Regions from separate parts of the Homo sapiens genome. Here region 1 is linked to region 2. The links come from fine-mapping of genetic effects on gene expression. A gene starts in region 2. The other region holds a variant in brackets. All regions are shown on one strand. Distances are from middle to middle.

What was found. PIP is the estimated chance that this variant, and not a neighbour inherited with it, causes the effect.
Region 1: its variant is the best candidate, but not a certain one, in a credible set for the expression of STX2 in atrial appendage (GTEx, PIP 0.82).

Annotation. Positions count from the first base shown.
Region 1 is chr12:130,866,813-130,869,720 of GRCh38, reverse strand. No RefSeq gene overlaps it. Among named protein-coding and RNA genes, the nearest start is that of RAN, 3.8 kb to the left of the region's middle. The variant C/T (reference allele first, on the strand shown) is at 1,186.
Region 2 is chr12:130,837,630-130,840,537 of GRCh38, reverse strand. It overlaps STX2 (syntaxin 2), which reads left to right and starts at 1,288. Exons shown (of 11, transcript NM_194356.4): 1 at 1,288-1,468. The coding sequence starts at 1,439. RefSeq lists silencers at 1,085-1,594, 1,665-1,724.

The DNA of each region.
Region 1 (2,908 bases), 29 kb before region 2:
AGACAGATTCTCGCTCTTGTCACCCAGGAACTGCGGAGAGAGGTCATAGAAGAGTTTAACCTTACCTGCAATGTTCCATTTCTTTTTTAAAAAATGGTAATCAGGGCCGGGCACGGTGGCTCACGCCTGTAATCCCAGCACTTTGGGAGGCCAAGGCGGGCAGATCACGAGGTCAGGAGATCGAGACCATCCTGGCTAAACCGGTGAAACCCCGTCTCTACTAAAAATACAAAAAATTAGCTGGGCGTGGTGGCGGGTGCCTGTAGTCCCAGCTACTCGGGAGGCTGAGGCAGGAGAATGGCGTGAACCCGGGAGGTGGAGCTTACAGTGAGCAGAGATCGCACCACTGCACTCCAGCGTGGGCGACAGAGCAAAACTCCATCTAATCAGGCTGGGTGCAGTGACTCACGCCTGTAATCCGAGCACTTTGGGAGGCCAAGGCAGATGGATCACTTGAGCTCAGGAGTTTAGGACCAGCCTGGGCAACATGGTGAAACCCATGTCTCTAAAAAAAAAACAAGAAAGAAAATTAATTTTAAAAATGGTAATCAAAGCAAGGTGACAATATATTAACCATTTGTATAATTCTGGGTGATGAGAACATCAGTGTTTATACCTTTTGGCGTTTTTTCCCCTACAAGAATCCAGTCGAGGATTGCATGTTACGCTTTTAACTTGTTTCTCAGGCCTCCTTAGTCTCTAGTTTTTTTTTTAGAGACAGGGTCTCTGTCACACAGGCTGGAGCATAGTGGCTTACTGCAGCCTGGAACTCCTGGGCTCAAGTGATCCTCCCACCTCAGCCTGCTTAGTAGCTGGGACTACAGGCATGTGCCACCAGGCCCAGCTAATTTTTTATTTATTTTATTGTAGCAATGGGGTCTCACTATGTTGCCCCAGCTGATCTCACCTATATACCTATATGTGATTTTATAAAGACGTAATTAGGTGTGTGTGTATATATATGACTTTTTTTCTCTGAAATGTTTGAGGTAAGTGGCAAACAGGATGCCCTTTGATGTGCAGTTCTTAAAACCAAGGACATTCTGTTACATAACCACTGTACACTTATCAAAATCAGGCAGTTAACATTGCTCTAATTTGATTATCTAATCTCGACCCTTAACTGTCAGATGTCTCACTAACACCATTTGCCTGGTTTAGGATCCAGTCCGGGATTGCATGGAA[C/T]GTTTGCTTGTCAGCCTCCTTAGTCTATTTCCATCTACAAGTCCTTCAGCCTTTCTTTATCTTTCATGACCTTGACACTTTTTGCAGAGTTTTTTTTTGGTTTTTTTGAGACAGAATCTCTCTCTGTTGCCAGGCTGGAGTGCACTGGCATGATCTTGGCTCACTGCAATCTCCACCTCCCGAGTTCTGGCATTCTCCTGCTTCAGCCTCCTGAGTAGCTGGGACTACAGGCGCACGCCACCATACCCACCTAATTTTTGAATTTTTAGTAGAGGCGGGGTTTCACGATGTACCATGTTGGTCAGGATGGTCTCGGTCTCTTGACCTCGTGATCTGCCTGCCTCGGCCTCCCAAAGCGCTGGGATTATAGGCATGAGCCACCGCGCCCGGCTGAGTATTTTTTTTCCCCCAAGACAGAGTCTTGCTCTGTCGCCCAGGTTGGAGTGCAGTGGTGCGATCTCAGCTCACTGCAACCTCTGCCTCCCGGGTTCAAGTGATTCTCCTGCTTCAGCCTCCTGTGTAGCTGGGATTACAGGTGCCTGCTACCACACCTGGCTAATTTTTGTATTTTTTGTAGAGATGGGTTTTCACCATGTTAGCCAGGCTGGTCTCAAACTCCTGACCTCAGGGGATCCACCCACCTGGGCCCCCTAAAGTGCTGGGATTACAGGCGTGAGCCACCACGCCTGGCCTTGCAGAGTATTTTAGAGGCCAGGTATTTTGTAGACTGTCCTTTCATTTGGATTTCTCTGATACTAGCTCATGATTAGATACAGGTTATGCAGTTTGGGTAGGAAAACCACAAAAGTGATGTTGTGTCCTTCTTAGTGTCTCAGATCAGGAGGCACAGGGTGGATTTTGTTTTGTAGTGACAGGGTATTTCTCTGTCACCAGGGTTGGAGTGCAGTGGCGAGATCATGACTCACTGCAACCTTGAGCTCCTGGGGTCAAATGATCCACTCACCTCAGCCCCCCGAGTAGCTGGGAATACAGGCAGGCACCACCACACCCAGCAATTTATTTTCTTTTTTGTAGAGATGGGGTCTTGCTACATTGCCCAGGCTTATCTCAAACTTCTGGCCACAAACAATTTTCCTGCCTTAACTTCTCAAAGTATTGAGATAACAGGCATGAGCCACTGCATGTGACCCAGAGTGATCTTTTAAAACCATATCAGAGGCAGGGTGTGGTGGCTCACACCTGTAATCCCAGCACTTTGGGAGGCCGAGGTTGGCGGATCATGAGGTCAGGAGATCAAGACCATCCTGGCTAACATGGTGAAACCCCGTCTCTACTAAAAATACAAAAAATTAGCCGGGCATGGTGGTGGGTGACTGTAGTCCCAGTTACTCGGGAGGCTGAGGCAGGAGAATGGCGTGAACCCGGGAGGCGAAGCTTGCAGTGAGCCGAGATTGCGCCACTACACTCCAGCCTGGGTGACAGAGCGAGACTCTGTCAAAAAAAAAAAAAATCAGATCATCCTCCTCCACTGGTAAAACCTGCAGTAGTTTTCTATCTGTCTCACTTAGATCCATGAAATCTGTAGCCAGGGAGGTACTATGGGCTCTAGCTCATGCCTACCTCTCCCACCTCGTCTCCTGCCTCTCTCCCTGTAACCTCACAAGACTTTCTGTATCTTACCCCAGCCAAATTTATTCCTGCCACAGGGCCTTTGCACTTACTGGTCCCTCTGTTTAAAAGTATCTTCCCTTGGCTGGGCACG
Region 2 (2,908 bases):
ATCGGGTAACAGAACCACATCACACCTAGAACCAAGTCCAAAACGTCCTGTTTTTTAATGTGTAGCCTGTTGCTCTCAAGCAGATTTCTTAGCGCTGCCTTCTGGTCAGACCAAAGCCACCTCCTCCAGGAGGCAGTAAAGACTTTAACCTTGTTTAAAAACAAATCTGGCCTTGCCTTCTCCTCCTGGAAGGCAATCTTTGTTTGCCTGGGAGTCTTCGGCTAGCCAGAGAGTAACAGTGTGATTTATGGTGGGGGCTTAGGGTTACATGGATATCACTTAACCAAGAGGCTGAGATCAAGCATGAAAGCAATCAAACAATCAATCAATCATGCACATGCAATGGAGCCCAGTAAACGTTCTGCACACTGTGGCTCAAGTGAGCTTCCCTGGCTGGCAGTACTTCGTGTGTAAGGCCACACATCAGTGCAGGGCAAGTAATGAGGCCTGACTACACAGGGAGAGGACCACGGGAGGACCTTGAAGCTGCACGCCGTAATCCCCAGACTCCCCCTCTGCCCTTCTTCCTTGGCTGATGTTAATCCGTATCATTTTCCTGCTAAGAAACCATAGTTGTGAGTACAGTAGTTTTTAGTGTATTCTGTGATTCCTTCTAGCAAATTATGGAACTTGAAGGTGGTTTTGGAAACCGCCAGAATTTGCCGTTGGTGTCAGAGGTGATAATGGTCTTGGGGACTGTTCCCCCAACCTGGGTAGTTCACCTAAGCTCCTGCACCTTCATGACGACCTCTCTGCCAGTTCCGTGCCCATGCCCTTACTTTCTTTTCTCATCTATCATTTATTTGTCTGTGTCTGTATTGCCTGTTTCTCCTGCCAGAATGGTATCCCAGGGCTGGGCCTGCGGACGCTCTTCCCGTTACCGCCCCCTGCCGTGTTATGCTCCGTAAGCATCATGTGTGGTACACGATCTCTTCTCCTTCATTCACACCCGAGGCTGCGCGTGGACCCTTAAAGAGAAGGTTCGGCATATGTATTACCCAAAGCTGCACCCAGCACATTCCGGGAGCTTTGCTCTTTTGTCACTATTCGTTGAATGCTCTATATTTTGATAAATAAAACAATGAGTGTGAAAGCATAAAAGCAGATCAAGGGACAAACAGCACGTGTAGCGGAACTGCCAGCCTGGGGCTCGGCCGGACCCCGCCCCTCCCCGCCTAGGCCCCGCCCCCAGGCCCCGCCCCTCCGGGCTCCCGCTGGAAAGCGCTGCCGCCGTGTGGGTGGGTGCGGGGCGCGGCGCGGGCCGGGCATGCGCAGAGCGCGCGGGGCGCGGTTGCCGTGGCAGCGCCGGCTCCAGGGAGGGCTGCTGGCGCCGGGCCGGGACCGCGGGGCCTGAGGCGGAGACCGGAGAGCCCGAGGCCCGGCCGGAGGCAGCTCGGGACAGGCTTGAGCGGCGGGGCGCGCTGCCCGGCCGGCGGGGATGCGGGACCGGCTGCCAGACCTGACGGCGGTGAGCGGCAGCCGCGGGTAGCGGTTCAGGCCCGGCCGGGGCGGCGTCTGGAGGGCGGGCGGGGGCTCGGGGCGTCTTGGGCGGGGCTCCGGGAGGGTCCCCAGGGCGGGGATCTCCGGCGTTCTGGGGCGGGGGCTGCGGGCAGGGTCTCAGGGAGTCCTGAGCGGGGACTGCTGGTGGGGTCCCCAGGGCGGGGGTCCCGGGAGTCCTAGGGTGGGGGCTCCGGGCGGGGTCCCCAGGGCTTCCTGGGCGGAGTCCTCAGGGCGGGTTGGGGCAGGAGGAGGGAGCGGGGAAGGTCCCGGCCTCGACCCCCTCTTCGAGCGTGGCTCCCTGTCCGTCACTCCGCTTGGCGGATTGTATCTGGCGCTTACCCAGCCGGAGCCCACTGGCCTAACTGTGGTCCGCCCCACGGGGTCCCCGCAGCTGGCGTCAGCCCCGGGGAGCAGGCCGGGTCCTCTTGGTCGCTGCTTTATCCCTGGGGCTTCACAAAGGACTGTGCACCAAGCGGGAGGCAACAGATGGGTGTGAAATGTGGGCACCTTAGAGTGCTGGGTGCTTGGGGTGGGGCGAGCGCGAACAGCAGCTTGTGTCTGATCTCCCAGTAGTTTGCTTTGGAAACTGGGACCGTGTGTTGACTCTGAACGCACCTTACGCGCCCAGCAGCCGGGCACACAGCAAGTTACTGTTTACTTTAGCAAGGGAAAAGCAGGTCACTAAAAATTTTGGAAGGATTTCGATGCATTCTACACGTGTAAAGGTGACAGGACTGTGCATGGTGCAGTGACAGCGGAATGATAGTGATGGTCGTGCACTTTCCAAGCTTGTCTAACCCAGGACGGCTTAGGCCAGCAGAAGTAGTTATGACTTTTTCCCTTTACAATACAGGTACTAATTCATGCTACGTGTGTGCACAGATAGAGCCTCTGGTCTCTAAATTGTTGGCAGCCTCAGAACAGGGGTGCTAAGGCCCACAGCCCTACGACACCCACTGCATGTAATGAATTATTCTCTCTCCTCTGCTGCTAGAATGGAGCTGTTATGTACCCCCGAGTGGGAGAATAGAGAAAAGAGCCACTTAAATCATTATCTGTGTTCTGTGGTTCAGATGAGGAGCTCTGGTTGAGAAAGGCAATGATTTCATCCTTAGGATCATGGAAATTATGCTTTATATTCATTCCAAGGAAGTTTCTTCACGGTGATTTTTCCTTTTTTATTAATGGACAAATATTCCCTGTGTTCCGCAGATCAATATCATCTTAAACACAGCAAATTATAGTTGTGTTGTCTTGCCCGATGGATTATCTTTCAGTGCCGTGTAGTAGGAGCTCAGGTATTTATTTAATGAAGAAAAGCTGTGGCTCACTCCTGTAATCCCAGCAGTCTGGGAGATCAGGGTGGGGGCATCACTTGAGCCCAGGTATTGGAGACCAGCTTGGGCAA